3 linked regions of the Homo sapiens genome follow. The protein of the gene in region 3 interacts with the protein of the main gene of each other region in a pairwise test. Each region holds a gene or a part of one and is shown on either strand. Other genes may lie near its edges.

Region 1 (7,105 bases), on a different chromosome or scaffold from region 3:
TGTTGCTCACCCTCCCCAGCCTTCACCTTCCCTGGTGCGGCCTCAGGGCGTCATGATTTCTAGTCGTCCTGAGCCCTGGGGCCTGGAGCTGTCCTAGGCTGGAAGTGGGCATGGGGACACCGCCTCGCTCCGGCTTCTGGAGAGGCGCGCTCAGCCTGAGGGTGGGGGTCAAATGCTCTGCACAGTTAGGAGCAGGGGTTTGCCCTGGGGCCACCTCTGGTTTGCTGAGGGGCCCTTCTGTGACTGGCTCTCCATGCCTGTTTTGTCATCTGTAAGGTGGGAATGGCTGTGATGGCCAGGTCTGAAGGGACAGCAGTGGTGCACTGAGCCAAGGGTGGGTACCTGGGCAGTGCCTACCATGGCTGATCCCTGACGCAGAGGTGTCACTGTTGACCAGTGGGCAGGGCTTGGAGTTTGTGGAAGTTCTCGGAACACGTGGCAGCCTGGATTTGCCACCCCCCAACCCCCGCCTCTCCCCTGTCCCTCAGCTCACGCCCTGTCTCCTGCCCAAGGTCTCTCCCTGTGTCTGACCTGAACCAGGCGCCATGGGGGGTTCCTGGGAGAAGTGCCTGTGCCTGGCCACGGTGCTCGCTCTATCAGCATTCATGTGAACCGGACACCTGGCACAGGGCTGGGCAGGCTGGGCCTCAGGATGAGCCTATTGATGGGGAGAGGGCAGAGGAGGCAGCGAGCCCCGGGCCAGGCATGGCCTCAGTGGCAGGGGCAGGGCTGGACTCAGGGGCTCAAGGGGCTGAGCAGGAGGCCATGGGCCTGGGTGGTCCCCGGGAGTCCTCCCCTTGGAAGGTGCCCCACAGCTGACACTGCCCGGGCACCAGGTGTGGAGTCTGTTTGAAGGCAGCTGCTGCTTCAGTCTCCCAGACCACTCAGGCTCAGGCAGCAAGCACCTGCCCTGGGAGGAGTTACCTGTCCTCCTCTCGCCCCCGGGGTCTCAGAGGATGCCCCAGAGGAAGCTGTGCCCATGAGTTCGGCCCATCCCCCTACTTCCTCTCAGGTCTCAGGTCTCCCACCGAGACCCTTAGGCTGCAGGTGTGCAGGCCGAGGTGGGTTCTTGGAGAGGGTCCCATGGGAAGGCTGTGTGGACAGTGGCCTTGGGGAGCGGTCACACGCAGGCCGTGGGCCCTGGGCACGGGTCCGGCTCCCACCTACCAGCATGGGTGCGGGCACTCGGGGAGGGTGTGGGTGTCGGCACTCGGGGAGGGGGTGGGTGTGAGGCCCCACACTCCCAGGCATGGGTCAGGGAGAACATTTCTCTCATTCCGGCACATTCTCCAGGAGGCCAGGCTGTGCGCTTCCCTCCATGGGGTGGTGCAGTGACCCAGAGGACCGGCCCCTGCAGTGGCCACCCTGTGGGCCCGAGTGCCCCAGAGCTGGCTGGGGTGGGCTGGCAGCTGTTGTGTTGTGTGGAACATGCTGGAAGGTCTGCCTTGTGCCACCCTGCATGTTTGGGATGCATCGACTCCCCGCCATGCCCTCTGCCTCCCCGGCTCCCAACCCTGACCCTGCCTCACGGGAGAGTTCTGGCGTGGGCTGGTGTCCTGGGCCGGGCCCTGCTGTGTGACCATGGACAGGTCTCATAACTTCTCTGTGTCTGTTTCACCTCTGAAATGGGGTCCGGCAGCACCCACGCTCCAGGAGGTTCCTGAGAGAACCCGGGGGCCGTCACGGCAGCTCCAGGGCTGGTGACTGTTCACGTCCTCTCTGCACTCACCCACCACCCCGGCCGCCTGGGAACTGTGCTCCTGCCTGTGCCCCCTGGAGGCATGTGCTGAGTGGAATATGTCACCCCAAACCCATGCCCGCCCAGTACCTCAGAATGGGGCCTTATTTAGAACTAGGGTCTTTGCAGCTGTAATCAAGTTAAGATGAGGTCGGACCGGAGTAGGGTGGGCCCTGAATCCAATGACTGGGGCCTGATAGAAAGAGGAGGAGTGGCGTGCACGCGGGAAGGAGGCCACGTGCAGAGGCTGGAGTGATGCAGGCCCAGGAGCACCTGGGGCCGCTGTGCCGGAGAGGCAGGAAGGATCCCGCCAGCGCCTCGAGGGAGTGGCCCTGCCCATGCCGTGCTTTCCTCCTCCACTGTCCAGAACTGTGAGCACATCCATTCCTTGCCGTCTGGGCCAGCAGCCCGTGGTCCCAGGACACACATCTGGGGGTCTCCTTGGGTCTGAGGGGTGAGCACAGCTGCCTCGAGACATCAGGAGCCTCTGACTCCATCCTGAGAAGAGTTATCCTTGGAAGAAAATGAGGCCACGTGCTAGCCCCCAGCCTCAGAACCCTCCAGGGCGCTTGGCTGGGTGTGAGGAGGAAGCAGGCCGGGGCCACAGCTGCGTGGCATCCTCTGCCTCCTCCTCGGTCCACGGGGGAGGCAGAGGGTCCACGGAGCACCTCGGTGTCTCCTCGGATGTGGTGTCGGCGGTGAGCCTGGGACCACGCTGTTCTGCTGTCACCGGCCTCCTGTCTCCAGCTCACGGGGTTCTTCCGGGGTAGGCTTTTCTCGAGGGCCACCTGACCCCTCTGTGCACGCCAGGGCAAGGCTGACGGGAGGCCCACTCGACCACTCCTGGGTGGGAGCCTGATGCAAAGCACCTGCCGTGGGGCCTCGGCCTGCGGTCCTGTCCCTGGTGGCACAGATCCAGGGGCCCAGGAGCCCGTGTCCGTGGTGGGGAGACTCCCGTCCCCTCCGCAGGCCACAGTGACAGGAGGGCTTTGGCGTCTGGGCCCCCCTGGGCCTTGCCCTGCCTTTCACAGAGGAACAAGCGCCCGCGGGACCGGCGGCCTTGGCCTCCCCGCCCCCCCGCAGAGGAAGCCGGCAGAGGAAATGAGGGCAGCGGACGGGGCCGGAGCCAGTTCCCAGGCACCTCTGAGAACTGTCACGGGAGGCGGCGTCCTCGCCGGGTCTCCAGCCTCCCTCCGCAGGGACCGGGGCCTGGGGTCAGGGGGCTGCGGCCTTGGGTGGGGCTGGGGCGGGCTGGGGTCCTCCCGGGGGTCACTCTGGGGTTACAGCCACGGTCAGAGCCACGCGGGAGCGACACCCAGAGCCTGGTACGTGGGGGTTTCTGGGAGGATGCGGGCTGTGCTCCCACTGCCAGCCTGGGGGTGGGGGCCGTGGCCAGGAGACTCCTGCTCCTGCAGGGACCCTGCCAGCGGAGGTGGCCGTGCCAGAGCAGGCAGGGCCTCTGCAGTGGGCGATTCTGGGCAGCCGGGGCCACCTGCCCCAGGGGGAGTGAGGGGCAGGATGCTACCCCGAGCCAGGGCTGCTCAAGGCCACCTCTCACGGCGGGGCGTGGCCAGCCTATCCCCATCTCACCCTCGGGGAGGGTGTGGGGTCCCTGCTGCTGAGGGACAGGAATCTGGCTCTACCCACCTGCCAGGGTCCCCAGGAAGACCCCTCCCTGTCCCTGGTATCGGGTAGCCCTGGCCAGCTGGCCTGGGGGAGCCAGGCTGGGGGGCAGGGGAGCTGGTCCGGGACCAGGGCTCTGCCGAGTCACCTCTGTGCCAAGGCCACGGTTTGAGGCTGTGGCTTGAGGCCGTTGTGGGATGGAGCTGGGGATGCCGTCCTCGGTGTGAGGATCCTCCGACGAGGCCCTGGTGCTCGGTGGGGCCCCTCTGGCTTCCCTTCTGCTCTGCTTCTGGGAATTCTTAGTGACTCTGAACAAGGGGCCTTGGGTTCCCTTGGTACTTGGTCCTGCGGATTCTGCAGCCGGTGGGGCTTGCTTAGGGTTTGGGCTCCGCTGTGAGGCCCACGTGGAATTTCCTCGAACCCCCTGCGAAAAAGGCGTGTGGCTTCCTAGTGACCACGGCACACACAAGTGCGCTCTGACCTCCGGGGTGCGGGTCCGGGGCTTCCCCGCATTGGATTTACCCGCGCGGCAGCACGCCCAGCCCCCGAGAGTCCCCGCCACTGCCCCCAGGACTGCTACCTGGCCGGTCACTCGCAGGCCGCCGGCGCCCTCCCAGCTGCCCCATGTTGGGGATCTCGCTCGCTCTCTGTGAATGATGCTCAGTTGTGGGCTGTCCCGTGGGCTGCTATCGTGGACGCTGGAGTGAGGGCCCCTTTACTGAGAGGTAACTCACATACCAAGGACCCACCTGTGTCAAATGAGCAGCTGGGGCTTTCCTGCATTCCCAAGAGTGCAGCCATGGCACGGCTAGCTGTGGAGCATCCCTGCCCCTGACAGAAGCCCCATGCCCGAGGGCATCACTCCCCATCCCCTGCCCCCAGCCCTGGCAGCCACCGATCTGTCTCGGTCTCTGGGCCCCTGGCCTGGACGTCTGTCTCATAAGCAGGGTCCTGTGGCCTTGTCCTCTTTGGGCCCTGAGGTTTTCGCTGTGTGTATAGCGGCCCCAGGGATCAGGGGTGCTGGTGTGTGACTGTGGGGCACTGTCCAGGGAGCTTCCAGGAGGTGGTGCCATTTTGCCCCCATCCCCATGGACGAACGCCTCCATGGCTTCCCCTCCCGCCAGTGCTGGCTGCTGTTTTTATAACGCCCGGGCTCGTGAGCATGTGGGGGCTGCCCATGGTGGTCTTGTCTGCCTTTCTGTGGCGAAAGATGTCAGGAGCCTTTCCAGGTCCTGCCCAGCTCTTCTGAGCCCCTCAAGCGAGTGCCCATTGGAGGTATTTTTTGGTGGTTTGTACCTGGTGTCGGGCAGCCCTGGCCAGCTGGCCTGTGGGAGCCAGGCTCGGGGCAGTGGGCAGGTCCTGGACACAAGGCCTCAGGTCTGTGCGCAGTGAGCAGGTGGCCTGCTGCTTCACTTCCCGTGACCCTGTGCAGGGCTGAGCACCAGCAGCTTCCACCCTGAAATGGGCCGAGGTGAGAGCACTTGCGGCAGGAGCCGGCACACGCCCCGCTTTCCTTCCCAGGGAGCTGGGTGCAGACACTGACCAGCACACCGCCAGGCTCAGGCACCTTCTCTCCCTGGGAAGCTGCCTGGAATCTCTGTGGCCCAGAGGCAGGTGTCCCTGAAAGCAGCTCCTGGCCCCAGGGATGAATGACGGGGAGGACGGACCCTGCTCGGACCCTGGCTCTGGAGGCTGGGCCCCGCCCTGCTCTCTGCCGCGGGGTCTGGCGAGATGCTTGGCTGCTGCTGGAGCCTGAACTAGCGCGTCAGACTGTTTTATTTTTCCTTCTGTGACGGGCGGCCCTGCAAGTCTTGTCTAGAAATACCCGTGGCCGGCATGCATCCGCGACGCCCGGCCGCCCTGGCCATGGACCTGCCCGTTTCCTCCTTGGCAAGCCTGAGCCCAGCAGCCCCCTGCTGCTGCCCAGCCAGCACTGAGGGAGGGACTCAGTCCGTGCAGGTCTGTAGGGGGCCAGCTGGATGCCCGGCTGTGTCAGGGCCGGGGTCCTGAGACGCACAGGAGGGTAGGCCCCCACGAAGAGCGGGACCGAGGGCCAAGGTGTTGGGGGACAGTGTGCGTCGAGCAGAGACAGGCCAGGAGCGAAGAGATGGGGGCTGTGGGACCTTAGCTGGAGCTGCCTGCCCCTTGGAGGCTTCTCCACTGTCAGGGATCAGCCTCCTGGGGAACCGGGGGCATTCCAGGTGCCCTTCCCACCCTTGGACCAGCCTTGGGGTAGGCCCTGGGGCATCTGATGCTGATGCAGGCTGGGCCTGGGCTGTGTGTTGTGTCAACAGAGGGGACATTCCTTGTGAGTGTCCAGCTGGTGGAACTCACTTCCGTCCCTGGGCTGGCCTGGGCTGGGCACCCATGTTTGATTGCAGGGTTGGCTGTCGAGGGGCAGGAGAGGCGGACTTAGAGATGCTGGGGTGGTAACCCCCGGGAACTGTGCGGGGGTTCCCTGCAGCAGAGAGTAGGGCTGGTCCTAGCACTGGGGGAGGGCCGGATGCCCACCTTGGGGCTGCCAGCGTGTGCGGCAGGCATGTGCGTGGAGGGGTACGTGTGCGTCTATGAGCAAGTGCAGCCCCAGGTTGGAGGCGAGCGTGTGCATGGGCTGGTGCGGTGCCCGCGGTGTCGGATGGACCCGGCCCGGGCCCGTGGACCTTGCCATGTCCTGGGCTTGTCCCGGAAGCTTACATTTTATGTGGCCTCTCCTAAAAATAACCGTGGCTGGCCTGCATCCTCCTTATCCGTGGACATTCGGGCTCCCCTCTCTTGGCGGGGGCGGTGTCTTGTGACTTACAGCCCCTGCCCTGTCCTCACCTGCCACCCAGAATCCCACGCGGCAGATGGTGCCCACATCTGTCTGGTCTCGGGAGTGACTGTGGGGATGGTTCAGGGCTGGGCACGATGCCGCCACCAGGGCCTGTGGGGGCACCGTTGCTGTCCCAGAGGCTCCTCCTGCCCTCTCTCCCCTGTGTCGGGAGGCCTGTGGGGTCTTGCCGTACCCCGCCCAGGGCCCTGCTTCTGAGTTGGGGAGGGGGTCCTCAGTTTCGTGCCTGACTGGCGATCAGGGCCGAGGAGGGGTCTGCTGGACTGGGCTCTCTGTAGCAGGAGCTGATTGAATCCCAAAAGACACAATCCCAAGTGCCATCATCCTGAGTGTGGAAATCCCAAAAGGTCAAAATTCCAAAAACCGAATTCAGGAAAAAAATGATTTAAAAGATTCTTTAGAAGACATTTAGTCTGGGCGCGGTGGCTCACACCTGTAATCCCAGCACTTTGGGAGGCCAAGGCAGGCGGATCACCAGGTCAGGAGTTTGAGACCAGCCTGGCCAACATAGTGAAACCCTGTTTCTACTAAAAATACAAAAAATTAGGCGGGTGTGGTGGCTGGCGCCTGTAGTCCCAGCTCCTCGGGAGGCTGAGGCAGGAGAATGGCATGAACCCGGGAGGCGGAGCTTGCAGTGAGCCGAGAAGCACCACTGCACTCCAGCCTGGGCGACAGAGCAAGACTCTGTCTCAAAAACAAAACAAAACAAAAAACATTTATTTGCATTTGAAAAGGGATTTATTTGAAAAACATAAAAACTCAATAAAAATAAAAACTTCAGAGGCCACTTCACACAATAACACAGGCCATAGTAACATACATTGTAACATAGTAACATACATTGTAACATGGTAACATACATTGTAACATAGTAACATACATTGTAACATGGTAACATACATTGTAACATGATA
Region 2 (7,105 bases), on a different chromosome or scaffold from region 3:
CCCTGTGCAGCCAGCCCTTAGGGGTCCCTTCTTCCTTCGTGCTCAAGTCACTACTGCCTGCCCACCCCATTCATTTGGCATTTATGTGACTGTAACTGTGTTCTGTGTGCCCCTCTAGTCTTCAGACCTCTTGAGGAGAGGCTACTGTGTCTTTGTATCCTACAGAGCACTCAGCACAGTTGAAAAGCTCTTCAGGGGGCTGGGCGTGGTGGCTCACGCCTGTAATCCTAGCACTTTGGGAGGCCGAGGTGGGCAGATCACCTGAGGTCAGGGGTTCGAGACCAGCCTGGCCAACATGGCGAAACCCTGTCTCTACTAAAAATACAAAAATTAGCTGGGTGTGGTGGCTCATGCCTATAATCCCAGCTACTCGAGAGGCTGAGGCAGAAGAATCACTTGAACCCAGGAGGTGGAGGTTGCAGTGAGCTGAGATCACACCACCACATTCCAACCTGGGTGACAAGAGCAAAAAAAGAAAAAGAAATCTCAAAAAGAAAAAGAAAAGTTTTTCAGGGGACTCTTGCAATTGTGGCATCATGATCCTTCACACCTGCACTTACTGGACGCCTCCTGTGTACACAGCCCCTTTCCTCCTGTGCACAAGGTGGCCTGTGTTAGGACAGAGGCTGCAGCTCCCCCTGACCCTGCCTCTCCCCTGTTTGCATCTACAGGTACCCAGACAGCCATTGTCTTCATCAAGCAGCCGTCCTCCCAGGATGCACTGCAGGGGCGCCGGGCGCTGCTTCGCTGTGAGGTTGAGGCTCCGGGCCCGGTACATGTGTACTGGCTGCTCGATGGGGCCCCTGTCCAGGACACGGAGCGGCGTTTCGCCCAGGGCAGCAGCCTGAGCTTTGCAGCTGTGGACCGGCTGCAGGACTCTGGCACCTTCCAGTGTGTGGCTCGGGATGATGTCACTGGAGAAGAAGCCCGCAGTGCCAACGCCTCCTTCAACATCAAATGTGAGAGCCAGGGGGGCTGTGCCCAGTCCCCCTGTCAGACCCTCAATGACTGAGGCCTGGGGGATCCCTCCCTTACCTCAGCTTCTCCCATTTCCAGTTAAACGGGCCAGGCAGAATGCATTTATCATCAGCTTTTTTTGCTCATGTGGATAAGAGGAAATTAAAAGTTATATTTTTTCCAAAATTTTTTCCTTCAAGTCTGGGACCCATTTATCTGCTGCATGCTTGTGCAAATGGAAAGGGCGGCCGAGCCCTTGGCCAAGTGTCAGACTTGACCTGCCAGGGACCAGGCAGGCACTTAGTATCTGGTAACTGTAGCCCCAGCCTCAGCCTCCAGGGCTTCCTTGTGTCTGTTGGCACAGAGCCTCGAGGTTCCACGGCTTCCTGCTTGTCCTCCTTGCCCTCTGCCTTCCCGCCTTTGCCCTGCTCTGCCCCTCACTGCAACCGTGGCCTCTGCTACAGGGATTGAGGCAGGTCCTGTGGTCCTGAAGCATCCAGCCTCGGAAGCTGAGATCCAGCCACAGACCCAGGTCACACTTCGTTGCCACATTGATGGGCACCCTCGGTAAGGAGTCAGGGAGGTGGGGATGAAGAGGGTTATTCCGGACAGGGATGTCTCCCCAAATCTTGGACTCTATGCGGATGTTACCTCGCTCCATTCTGTGACCACTCGTTCCACCACCACAGTGCTCTTCACCCTGCCCTCCCCCAGATATTGCCCTATGCCGGCCCCTGGTGGCCTGAAGAGTGAGCCACATTGTGTGTAGAGCTGGGAGATCTAATATCAACTTGATTCTGCCCCTGAATCAGAATTACTGTGTGCCCTTTTGCAAGTCCCTTCCCTTCCTCAGGCCGTTTCTCCATGTATAAACTGAAAGGTCTAGCCCTGACCCTCTGATACTGTATCCTCTCCACTGGCCACTGAGTACCCCTCCCCACCACTGCTGACTGTGTCTGCCCTGCAGGCCCACCTACCAATGGTTCCGAGATGGGACCCCCCTTTCTGATGGTCAGAGCAACCACACAGTCAGCAGCAAGGAGCGGAACCTGACGCTCCGGCCAGCTGGTCCTGAGCATAGTGGGCTGTATTCCTGCTGCGCCCACAGTGCTTTTGGCCAGGCTTGCAGCAGCCAGAACTTCACCTTGAGCATTGCTGGTGAGCCTGGGGTGGGGGCGGAAGGGATGAGGTGAGCACAGGAGGGCCTCACCACCCAGGCTGCATGCTCCCCCATCTTTCCCTCTCCAGATGAAAGCTTTGCCAGGGTGGTGCTGGCACCCCAGGACGTGGTAGTAGCGAGGTATGAGGAGGCCATGTTCCATTGCCAGTTCTCAGCCCAGCCACCCCCGAGCCTGCAGTGGCTCTTTGAGGATGAGACTCCCATCACTAACCGCAGTCGGTAAGGCATCTGGCTGGGAGCATTCCAGTACCATGTACCACACACATGCATTCTGTAGAAGGGGGTGCGATTTGTATCACAGACATCACAGATTTGTACATGTATTATTTCAAATTTCCAAGAGACACAGTTGAATGTTTTGCTTTTACAAGATGAGTCTGACACAGGGAAGAGTCTCTGGGAAGAGCCCTTTTCCAGTTTGCACAAAGGCACTCTGAGCTAGTGATGGTTCCACTTCTCTCTCCCCACCACCCACATGGGTCTTCTGGGATGGAAGGGTAGAGACCCCAGGGATGAGAGAGACACAAGAGACCTAGGTAGTCAGGTGGTCATAGTCTAGATAGCGTGATCCAGTGTGGCAAAGACATCACACACACACACACACACACACACACACACACACACACACACACACACTTTTTAGAGGAAGCAAACACCTCTAGAAGGTTCCAGCCCTACTGCAGGGACTTCTGTTCTTGCCTGGACCCTAGGAGAACATAGAACACCTTTGCAGTGTCAGGCACGACCATGGTCCTTGGGGGTGTGGCTTCCTAGGCTAGGGGCTTGGATGCCACTTGGCTTCAGCCCTGAGGACATCATCAGTAGCCTGCCTGGTATGGCTGAGGGGTATCTGACCCTGGAGCTGGGTGCCCTATCAACGTGGCCCTGTGGGAAGGTGGCTTCCCTGTCTTGACAGTTGCACATGGTGGTTATTCTGTGTATTAGTCCATTTTAATGCTGCTGATAAAGACATACCCGAGACTGAGCAGTTTACAAAAGAAAGAGGTTTAATTGGACTTACAGTTCCACATGGCTGGGCAAGCCTCACAATCATGGCAGAAGGCAAGGAAGACCAAGTCACGTCTTACATGGATGGCAGCAGGCAAAGGAGAGAGAGCTTCTGCAGGGGAATGCCTCATTTTAAAACCATCAGATCTCGTGAGACTTGTTCACTATCATGAGAACAGCACGGGAAAGACTTGCCCCCATGATTCAGTTACCTCCCACTGGGTCCCTCCCACAACATGTGGGAATTATGGGAGCTACAATTTAAGATGAGATTTGAGTGGGGACACAGCCAAACCATATCACTCTCTCTCGCACCTGCATTGCCATTTGCCTCATTGCTTCCCGAGCTGATCTCCTGTAGTTGGAACACACACCTGCACGTGCACCTGAGCAAGTGTATGCAGGCACACACACCAGTCTGGAGTGTCAGCTTCCTTCTCTCTGCCCTGTTCCTGGTCGATTCCTTACTACATTTCCGACTTTGCAGGAAAGGGGTTCCCTTGCATTCCTTTCCAGAACTAGGCCTATTGGCCACTTTCTCCAAATTGCACTCTCCCCTCTGCAGCCCCCCACACCTCCGCAGAGCCACAGTGTTTGCCAACGGGTCTCTGCTGCTGACCCAGGTCCGGCCACGCAATGCAGGGATCTACCGCTGCATTGGCCAGGGGCAGAGGGGCCCACCCATCATCCTGGAAGCCACACTTCACCTAGCAGGTGAGTCTCTGGGTCTGGGGTGCTGATGTGGGAGGCTGCCTTTAACATTTTTGGCACATAGAGATTTAGGCTTCTGTTTTTACTCAGCCGCTTGGAGGGCAGGGGAAGAAAAGGATGCTGGGAGTAGGAAGAGGATATGCAGAGGGCTGCAGGGGAGGGTTTGTGCTGGGAAAGGGCCTAGGCTTGCTGTGGGAGAACATCATGTACCCTGAGACCCACAATAATTGGGCCATTCCTCCTACTTATGTCCTTGCAGAGATTGAAGACATGCCGCTATTTGAGCCACGGGTGTTTACAGCTGGCAGCGAGGAGCGTGTGACCTGCCTTCCCCCCAAGGGTCTGCCAGAGCCCAGCGTGTGGTGGGAGCACGCGGGAGTCCGGCTGCCCACCCATGGCAGGGTCTACCAGAAGGGCCACGAGCTGGTGTTGGCCAATATTGCTGAAAGTGATGCTGGTGTCTACACCTGCCACGCGGCCAACCTGGCTGGTCAGCGGAGACAGGATGTCAACATCACTGTGGCCAGTGAGCACCTTTGCCCTGAAGGTCAAGGAGAGGTGGAGGGGAACACAGGTCTGGGTGTGATGGACAGAGGCTTCCCTGGTACTCACCTGAGGTCCTCTCAGTTCTGGGCCCTGCAGGCTTGGGAATCAGTTCACTACTGGGAGTCGGTGTAGACAGTAGAGAGCCAGGCACAGGGGTTAGGGTGGGTGCTCCAGAGGAAATAGTGACAGCCCTCACAGAAAAATGGTCCTCTGGGTACAGAGGAAAGAGCAATAGACTAGGAATCTAGAGACCTGGGTCCCACTATGCTCCCAATGCACAGAGTGACGATGGTAGCAAATCACCCACCTTACTGGGGTTCAGTCTCCTCATCCATAAAATGGAGCCAGTAATCTACTACCTACCCCACAAGGTGGTTGGAAAGGTCAAATGAAGTAGATGAAAATGATTTTTCTTTTTTTCTTTTTTGGGAGGTAATAGTGGACAAAATTATAGGTGATTTTTAATTTGTTTTAGTTTGTTATGCTTTCCAAATTTCTTTACTAAACATATTACTTATGAAAAAAAAGAGGGGGAGAAAAGCAAGACATATGACTGAAAGTACACATGATAAACCCTTTATATCAGGCTGGGCGCGGTGGCTCATGCCTGTAATCCCAGCACTTTGGGAGGCCGAGCCGGGCGGATCACAAGGTCAGGAGTTGGAGACCAGCCTGACCAACATGGTGAAACCCCATCTCTACTAAAAATACAAAAATTAGCTGGGCGTGGTGGGGCACACCTGTAATCCCAGCTACTCAGGAGGCTGAGGGAGGAAAATTGCTTGAACCCAGGAGGCAGAGGTTGCAATGAGCTGAGATCGCACCGTTGCTCTTCAGCCCGGGCAACAGAGTGAGACTCCATCTCAAAACAAAACAAAACAAACCTTATATCCTCACTACAGGCATAGGGATTTATTTGTTTACTTATTTCTTTATACCATGCCTTGTTCCAAACCTTTTGTGGTAGTTTAAAAGGATACACAATAAAAATTACAATATGCACACAGAGACACACATACATACAAACTATTTTGCAATCTGCTTCTTCCACTTACCTTTATGTTACTATTATCTTTCCGAGTGGGTAACTTTGCAAAAAGATTTGAATATGAAAGTGGCTTTGTAAATGTGAAGTTGTGATGCTAGTATTCCCATTAGGATACTGAAATCTTAGAAGACATGCACCTATACTCAGGCCGTGATTTGGGTGGGAATCACAGCACATGTGTAACGAGTGCTCAGGACACTCACAGTGCAGGTGCAAAGGCAAGATGCACAGTCAAGCCTTCCTCCAGTTGAGGTCTGAGAATCACCTGCTTTCATTAGGGATACTTTTTCTTCTTTTGTTTGAGACGGAGTCTCACTCTGTCACCCAGGCTGGAGTGTAGTGGTGTGATCTTGGCTCACTGCAACCTGCGCCTCCCAGGTTCAAGTGATTCTCGTGCCTCAGCCTCCCAAGTAGCTGGGTTTAAAGGTGTGTGCCACCACACCTGGCTAATTTTTGTATTTTTAGTAGAGGCGATGTTTTACCATGTTGGCCAGGCTAGTCTCAAACTCTTGACCTCAAGTGATCCACCTGCCTCGGCCTCCTAAAGTGCTGGGATTATGGGTGTGAGCTGCCATGCCCGGCCTCATTAGGGATACTTTTTAAAACACAGGCCAGGCGTGGTGGTTCACACCTATAATCCCAGTGCTTTGGGAGGCCGAGATAGGAAGATCTCTTGAGCCCAGGAGTTTGAGACCAGGCTGGACAAAATAGTGAGACCTTGTGTCTACAGAAATTTAAAAAGTTAGCTGGGCGCGGTGGCTCACGCTTGTAATCCCAGCACTTTGGGAGGCCGAGGTGGGTGGATCACGAGGTCAGGAGTTCGAGATCAGCCTGACCAACATGGTGAAACCCCGTCTCTACTAAAAATACAAAAATTAGCTGGGCATGTTGGCACTCACCTGTAATCCCAGCTACTTGGGAGGCTGGGGCAGGAGAATTGCTTGAATCCAGGAGGCAGAGGTTGCAGTGAGTCGAGATCGTGCCATTGCACTCCAGCCTGGGTGACAGAGCGAGACTTTGTCTCAGGAAAAAAAAAAAAAAAAATTTAGCCAGGTATGGTGATGCACACCTATAATCCCAACTATTTGGGAGGCTGAGGCTGGAGGATCATTTGAGCTCGGGAGCTGGAGGTTCCAGTGAGCTATGATCACACTACTGTACTGGAGCCTGGATGACAGCAAGACCCTGTCTCCAAAAAAATGTCTAAGACATTGCTGGAGCCTTGAAAAAAAGAAAAAAAATGCAGAATTCGGGGCCCCACTCCACAGCTTCCAACCCAGGCTCTAGGGGTGGGACCCAGGTAGATGTGTATTTAACAAGTGCTCTGGGTGATACTTCATGTGTGTTCAAGTTGGGGAACTCTGGCTTTGATCAGTCATTCCACAGATGCTGACTGAGGCTGACACTGAGCCATGCCAGTGTCCCTTGCTGTGCTCTGAGAAGGAGGCCTGTGGCATTTGAGAGTGTGTGATGCAAACAGGGCCAGATCAGGTGCTGGGTGTTAGAGGGTAGAGCCCAGAAGACGGAGAGCTCTGGGAATGCATTCAGTCAACAGAGATTTGTCGAGCACCTTGTGCTAGCTCTTCCCAGTACTGGATGCAACTGTGAACAAAGCAGGCAGAAGCCCCTCTCCTTGTGGAGTTCATATTCTAACA
Region 3 (7,105 bases):
GGGACTCTGCTCGCTTACACATCCTTCACTGGTTCTCCTCCCTCTTGGGTGCTCTGCATGCCACACCGTGCTCCCGGGAGCACCTCTCAAATAAACAACATGCACCCAAACTCTAGTCTCAGAGTGTGCTTTTAAAGGAAACTAAACCAAGGTACAGCTAATTTAAAAACATTTAAAGGTGAAAGACACGGTATACATATATCAAAACATCACATCGTATCCCACAAATACAATTATTATTTGTCAATTAAAAATAAAAATGTAAGGAGAAAAGAAAAAACAAAGCTACCATGATAACAGAAGATGCAAGAGGCCGAGCAGTACTTGACCACTAAGGCCTGGAGTGCCATTTCCTTCCATGAAAGTGACCTTGCCTTTGAAGAGCTATCAGCACAGGGACTCCTCATTAACTCAGACTCTAGTTCAGACTTTTTTTTTTTTGAGATAACGTCTCACTTTGTCACCCAGGCTGGAGTGCAGTGGCACAGCTCACTGCAGCCTCAAACTCCTGGGCTCAATATCCTCTTGCCTCAGCCTCCCAAGTAGCTGAGACCACAGGTTGCACCACCACACCTGGCTAATTTTTTTTTTAAAGTTTTTTTGTAGCCGGGCACGGTGGCTCACGCCTGTAATCCCAGCACTTTGGGAGGCCAAGGCAGGTGGATCACAGAGTCAAGAGATCGAGACTATCCTGGCCAACATGGTGAAACCCCGTCTCTACCAAAAATACAAAATTTAGCTGGGTGTGGTGGCGCATGCCTGTAGTCCCAGTGACTTGGGAGGCTGAGGCAGGAGAATTGCTTGAACCTGGGAGGCAGAGGTTGCAGTGAACCGAGATCGCGCCACTGCACTCCAGCCTAGTGACAGAGCGAGACTCCGTCTCAGAAACAAAAAACAACAACAAAAAAAGTTTTTTGTAGAGATGGGCTCTCACCATGTTGCCCAAACGGGTCTTGAACTCCTGGGCTCAAGCGTTCCTCCTGCCTCAGCCCCACAAAATTCTGGGATTACAAGCATGAGCCACTGCACCTGGCTTATTTCAGAATTTTCTATTGCAAGGCTTGCATTTAGTTAAAGGTTTCCTTTGCCCAAGTAGGAAAGGTTTTAATCTGAATTTGAAACTGTAATTTGACACCATTATTTTACTTTATGCATAAAAAAACCCAAACAAGCAAAAAACTTTTTATAGTTTTTTTTTTTAACTAGGAAAAAAATACATCAAAATGTCAATACCATGGGTGACTTTTTCTTCTGTTTCCTAATTTGGGATTCTTTTAATAAATAGTGATATTTTATAATAAATAACCATGTGTATATTTTTAAACTGTGCTGGCCAAGCAGAACAGTCTTGGCAGGAAGCTGCTTGTGACTTCTATTTTGCGATTTCTACCCCATCTCACTTGCTCCTGGGGCCTGGCACTGTCACTGGCCCCAGCAATCACTGAAGACCCTCAGATCTACATGTTCCATCCTCCCTGAGCTCCAGTGCCTTCTTTGACAAAAATGGAGCTAAAGCTAGAGGGGCAAAATGCTTTTTAAACAAACAAACAAAAAAACAAAAAAATTTCAAGCTGAACTCTTTTGCTTGCTAAGGTGGCAGATGGGAGAAGCGGCCTGGAGAGATGCATAATTCATTTCAGTGGGAAAATTAAAATCTCTAAGTAGAACCCTTGAGGCTGCAGAGATTGGCTAGGGAGCAATGCCTAGGAATGAGAGCATGTGTCAGGAAAGAAGGCTTATCTTTTTTCTTTTTTTTTTTGAGACAGAGTCTTGCTCTGTCACCCAGGCTGGAGCTCACGGGTTCAAGCGATTCTCCTGCCTCAGCCTCCGGAGTAGCTGACACTACAGGCACCCGCCACCCCACCCGGCTAAATTTTGTATTTTTAGTAAAGACAGGGTTTCACCATGTTGGCCAGGCTGGTCTCAAACTTCTGACCTCAAATGATCCACCCACCTTGGCCTCTCAAAGTGCTGGGATTACAGGCATGAGCCACCGCGCCCAGCCATCTTAATATTTTGAAGAGCCACATACAGGCTTCTTGCTTAACAGAAAGCACAATTTAAGGATTTTTTTTTTTTTCCGTAGAGACAGGGCCTCACTCAGTTGCCCAGGCTGTGGTGCAGTGGTTCAATCATGGCTCGCTGCAGCCTCAATCTCCCAGGTTCAAGGGATCCTCCCACCTCAGCCTCTAGAGCAGCTAGGACTGCAGGCATGTGCCACCACACCCAGCTAATTTACTATTATTATTATCATTTATTTTATTTTATTTTATTTTATTATTTTATTTTTGTAGACATTGTCTTGCTATGGTGCCCAGGCCTGTCTCCAACTTCTGGCTTCAAGTGATCCTCCCATTTCAGCCTCCTGAAGCACTGAGATTACGGGTGTGAGCCACTTTGGCCTATTTGAGGGTCCCTTTGATGGGAAAAACATGAGTTCTGTGGCATGGCCCAGAAAGAGGTGGAGTGAAACAAAGAGAACTAAATTGTTCTGTACAATAAAGCAAGAGACTTTTGAGTTTCCTAGAACATTCTAGAAGGAGTATGAGGGGGCCCTGCGGCAGGACTGAGGAAAGGACCAACTGGGGCCAGAGACCACCAAGTGAGGAGTTTCTGGGGGAGGAATAGCCACGAGATTACTGAGAACGGGGGTTCCCAACCTTCAACTTGGCAGTGCCCCATAGCTGTGGCAGCCCTCTCATTGGGACCCTAACCCTTCAACAGAATTGTTACACACAACAGCCATGTTCTCGGTGACTCCAAGAAATCAAAGGGAAAGAGGCTGGCGCTGGCAGAGAGAGAAAGCAGAAGTTTGTGAAGCAGCAGATACAGAACCATCCCCTTCTTGTACAAAAATAAATTTCCCCAAAATATTAACACTGGCTACATGCTCGTTTTAGGGTGACGAAATTATATGTGATTTTTGTTTTCTTTTTTTAAAGTAACCATCTTTTCTAAATTTTCTGTGCTAGACATGTTTTACTTGAGCATATGGAGGGAAAAAAACAAAATTCCATGAAAGTTCTATTTTAGAAGTGTTCTGCACGGAGTAGAAGCTCACCCAAAACCCCCGGGCCGAGGCAGGAAGGTGGCCCTCAGGACAAGGTCTGACCCTGCTCCTTACATCTCTCCAGTGGCACCGAGTGCCTCCTGTCAAGTGGGAGCCCCCCGAAGGCAGCTCTGTGTCCTCCCCGAGGCTGCCCATGGCAGCAGTCAGGCCTCCGTGGTGTCAGAAGGTCATCCTAGCCGCCTGTGCCTCCTGAGAAAGCAGGAGGAATCTAGGTTTTGTGGATCTTGAAGCTTATTCAATTTCTTTTTTCTTTTTTTTCTTTTTCTTTTTTTTTTTTTCTTTGAGACAGAGTCTTACTCTGTCGCTCAGGCTGGAGTGCAGTGGTGCAATCTCAGCTCACTGCAACCTCTGCCTCTTGGGTTCAAGCAATTCTCCTGCCTCAGCCTCTCCCAAGCAGACACGACTACAGGTGTGTGCCACCACACCTGGCTAATTTTTGTATTTTTAGTAGAGATGGGGTTTCATCATGTTGACCAGGCTGGTCTCGGACTCCTGATCTCAAGCAATCCTCCTGTCTCGGCCTTCCAGAGTGCTGGGATTACAGGCGTGAGCCACTGCACCCGGCCTGAATTTCTTTAAGTAAAAGAAAACCAAACAGGTATAGGGCCTTGGAAGCGGCTGGTGCAAGTGCAGGGTTCTGAAGCTTGGGGTAAATCCACCTCGGAGTAGGGGGGATCTTCCTTCCCCTCTGACTTCAGATGAAGAGGGCAGCCCCCCTCCCCACCCCATCCCTTACAGTGTCAGAGCCAGCATCATTGATTCTGCTTAGCTTGGTCTTAGTCTAACTCAGCTGACATGGGGGTGCTCTGGCGGGTCACGAGAAGGAATGAGGAGTGGCATCGTTCCCTCCTTGACTTCCCCTCAGAAGTTAGGCCTGGCCCTGACTCCAAAGCTTTACCGTGTATGCCCCTGTGTAGGGTTGGGCTGGGCCAGGCCAGCATGGGAGGGGATCGGAAAGGGGTGTGCTGAGCTAAGCCAGGGAGGTCTCTGCCTTCTAGAGGTTTTTAGCTGAGTAGAACAATTTATAGTGTAAACATTTAAAAAATTCTCCTCTCCCTAGAGGTCAAGACTAGCCTGGGCAACATTATGAGACCCTGTCTCTATAAGAAAATATTTTATTTTATTTTATTTTATTTTGAAACAGAGTCTCACTCTGTCGCCCAGGCTGGAGTAAAATGGTGCAATCCAGGCTCACTGCAACCTCCGCCTCCCAGATTCAAGCGATTCTCCTGCCTCAGCCTCCAGGGTAGCTGGGATTACAGGCGCTCACCATCCCGCCCAGCTAATTTTTGTATTTTTAGTAGAGATGGGGTTTCACCATGTTGGCTAGGCTGGTCTTGAACTCCTGACCTCAAATGATCCACCCCCATCAGCTTCCCAAAGTGCTGGGATTATAGGCATGAGCCACTGCACCTAGCCTTCTGCAAGAAAATTTTTAAAAATTATATACATATAACAGAAAAGTTACCACCTTAGCATTTTAAAATACAGTAAAGGCTGGGTGCAGTGGCTCAGGCCTGTAATCCCAGAGCTTTAAGAGGCTGAGGCGGGAGGATTGCTTGAGTCCAGCAGTTCAAGACCAGCCTGGGCAACATGATGAGACTCCCATTTCTACAAAAGATAGAGAAAAAAATAGCTGACCATGGAGGTGCATGCACCTGTGGTCCCAGCTACTTGGGAGGCTGAGGTGGGAGGATTGCTTGAGCCCAGGAGTTTGAGGCTGCAGCGAGCTATGATCATGCCACTGCACTCCAGCCTGGATGACAGAGTGAGAACCTTCTAAATATGAAAAATCCTCCTCTCCCTTCGAAGGCATTCTGTATCTGTGCCTGTGTGTAGATCCATTGCATTTTCATGTTTCTAAAGCATGGCGCTCATGGGGAAAGCTGGTCTGTGTTTAAGTGCCTGTGTACCACGTTTCTTCCATGACACCACCCAAGTTGGGCTTGGATATGCTTGGAAAGAAGGGGGAGAGTAAAAATGTTATTGTGGTTGGGTGAATTACTCTATTAGGAGAGTAATACCTACTGCTAGGGTACGTGGGGAGGGGCGGAATTTGGCAGCAGTGTCCATATGTAAATATGTACATATTTTTAACTTAGTACAAGTTAGTGCTTGTCTTTACGCATTTTAGATATACAAAAATGATCCCAACTAGGGAATGAAGTAAGTGGATTTTTTTTAAAAAGAAAACTTGGACGTAAAAACTCAGGAATTTTTTGTGGCCTATAATTTAATTCCTAATGTATCAGACATATTCCAAGTTTAACAGATTTTTTTTTTTCTTTTGGATTCTGGCAAGTATGTTAACAGGAGGCAATTATGTGAATTAATATAAAATCCTTTTATTAAAAAATACAGAAGAGCCTTCATTTTAAAAGTAATTTAATATTCCTTCTCTGATGGTGTTGATGTCATGAACTTGTTTGATTAACTCTTCAAATGGTTTCAAAGCGCTTGGGGTTGTAATTTATGAACTTCTAATTGATTTCCCCAATCTTGGTTTGGCAGAGGAGGGCCTCCCGGAAGCCCTGAGGAGGCTGGAGGCCACACTCAGCTTCCTTCTCAGACAAGGGAGCCGGCCGGGATGGACTTTCTCGAGCGGCCAGGGGAGAGGGAGCTGTGGCACTGGAGACCCAGACCATGATGTCTGACCAGGCCCGTTGTGGTTCCTGAATCCTAAGCAGCTGGGCCTTCACTCCCTCTGAAGATGTGTGGAAACACCACAGGCGGTTTCACAGGAACCATTTCCCACTGGGCCTCACCTCAGAACAAGCCTTCCTTGTTCGGGGAAGGGCAAGACTCCGCAGGTGCAGCCCTCACCATGGTCCTGCCGCTCCACCACTTCCTGTCCAGGCCACTTATTCGTCACTGGTCCTGTCTCAGATGCTACACAGAGGACGCTCTGGGCCTTGGGAAGGCGAGGGGCTAAGGCTGCCACCTCTTAAATCTGCCACCCACAAAAGCTCGCAGAGAAATCAAGGCCTTGGCTGGACCCAGGGAAATGATTGTGTTGCTTTTATTGTGTGCCCAGTGATTATCTACTCTCAAAACCTTGTAGATAGTGGCTGGGCACGGTGGTTCACACCTGTAATCCCAGCATTGTGGGAGGCCAAGGCAGGCGGATCCCTTGAGGTGAGGAGTTTGAGACCAGTCTGGCCAACATGGTGAAACCCTGTCTCTACTAAAAATACAAAAAAAAAAAAATGAGCTGGGCGTGGTGGTGTGTGCCTGTAATCCCAGCTACTAGGGAGGCTGAGGTATGAGAATCACTTGAACCCAGGAGGTGGAGGTTGCTGTGAGCCAAGATCATGCCACTGCACTCCAGCCTGGGTGACAGAGTGAGACCTTGTCAAAAAAAAAAGAAAGAAAGAAGAAAGGAAGGAAGGAAGGAAGGAAGGAAGGAAGGAAGGAAGGAAGGAAGGAAGGAAGGAAGGAAGGAAGGAAAAGAAAGAAACGTTCTAGATAGGGAATAACTGCCTCCACTTTACAGATGAAAAAATGAGGGTCAGGGAGGTTAAGAAACAACACACCAAGCTAGTAAAGGGTGCAAATAGGACTCAACCCAACAGCCCCACATCCCAACCCACCACAATAGATACTTCACTATATTCTTGGTCACAAAGTATAAGCTCCTGAGGGCATGCCTGGGCCTCTCAATTCTGTATGCTTCCCTCCCTAGAGTGGAGCACACAGTCATGTAAATTTGCAGCAAGCAGCTCTTATGGGCCTTGGAATCTCACTACCTGGGCTTCGGCTTCCTCATCTGTCAAATGGGGATAACTTGCACCTCACTGGTTGCTGAATTAAATGAGATAATGTAAGCCCTTGGCACATCCGCATGAGCTCAAAGAGGGTTTCAGGGAGCAGAGACAAGGAGGCGGCCTGGAGGGTGGGTGGGGAATTCCCAGCTGTACTGGGAGTTGTGTTCCCAACCGAGAATAGGAAAGAGTGGGTGGAGCAGTTTGGCCGGGGCGGAGGTCTTGGTAGGGAAGCTGTGGCGGAGGAGATGGACTCATGTGAGCCTGAGCATTG

Evidence for each region.
Region 1: the proteins of DUSP29 (region 3) and AATK interact in a two-hybrid assay, tested with the Homo sapiens proteins (one study listed by BioGRID and IntAct).
Region 2: the proteins of DUSP29 (region 3) and PTK7 interact in a two-hybrid assay, tested with the Homo sapiens proteins (one study listed by BioGRID and IntAct).

Annotation. Positions count from the first base shown.
Region 1 is NC_000017.11:81,156,194-81,163,298, reverse strand, and holds part of AATK (serine/threonine-protein kinase LMTK1), read left to right. Parts: intron 1-7,105. UniProt on the Homo sapiens protein: May be involved in neuronal differentiation.
Region 2 is NC_000006.12:43,128,306-43,135,410, forward strand, and holds part of PTK7 (inactive tyrosine-protein kinase 7 isoform a precursor), read left to right. Parts: intron 1-671; coding exon 672-959; intron 960-1,421; coding exon 1,422-1,524; intron 1,525-1,924; coding exon 1,925-2,115; intron 2,116-2,205; coding exon 2,206-2,356; intron 2,357-3,710; coding exon 3,711-3,859; intron 3,860-4,115; coding exon 4,116-4,382; intron 4,383-7,105. UniProt on the Homo sapiens protein: Inactive tyrosine kinase involved in Wnt signaling pathway. Component of both the non-canonical (also known as the Wnt/planar cell polarity signaling) and the canonical Wnt signaling pathway.
Region 3 is NC_000010.11:75,063,624-75,070,728, forward strand, and holds part of DUSP29 (dual specificity phosphatase 29), read right to left. Parts: intron 1-7,105. UniProt on the Homo sapiens protein: Dual specificity phosphatase able to dephosphorylate phosphotyrosine, phosphoserine and phosphothreonine residues within the same substrate, with a preference for phosphotyrosine as a substrate. Involved in the modulation of intracellular signaling cascades.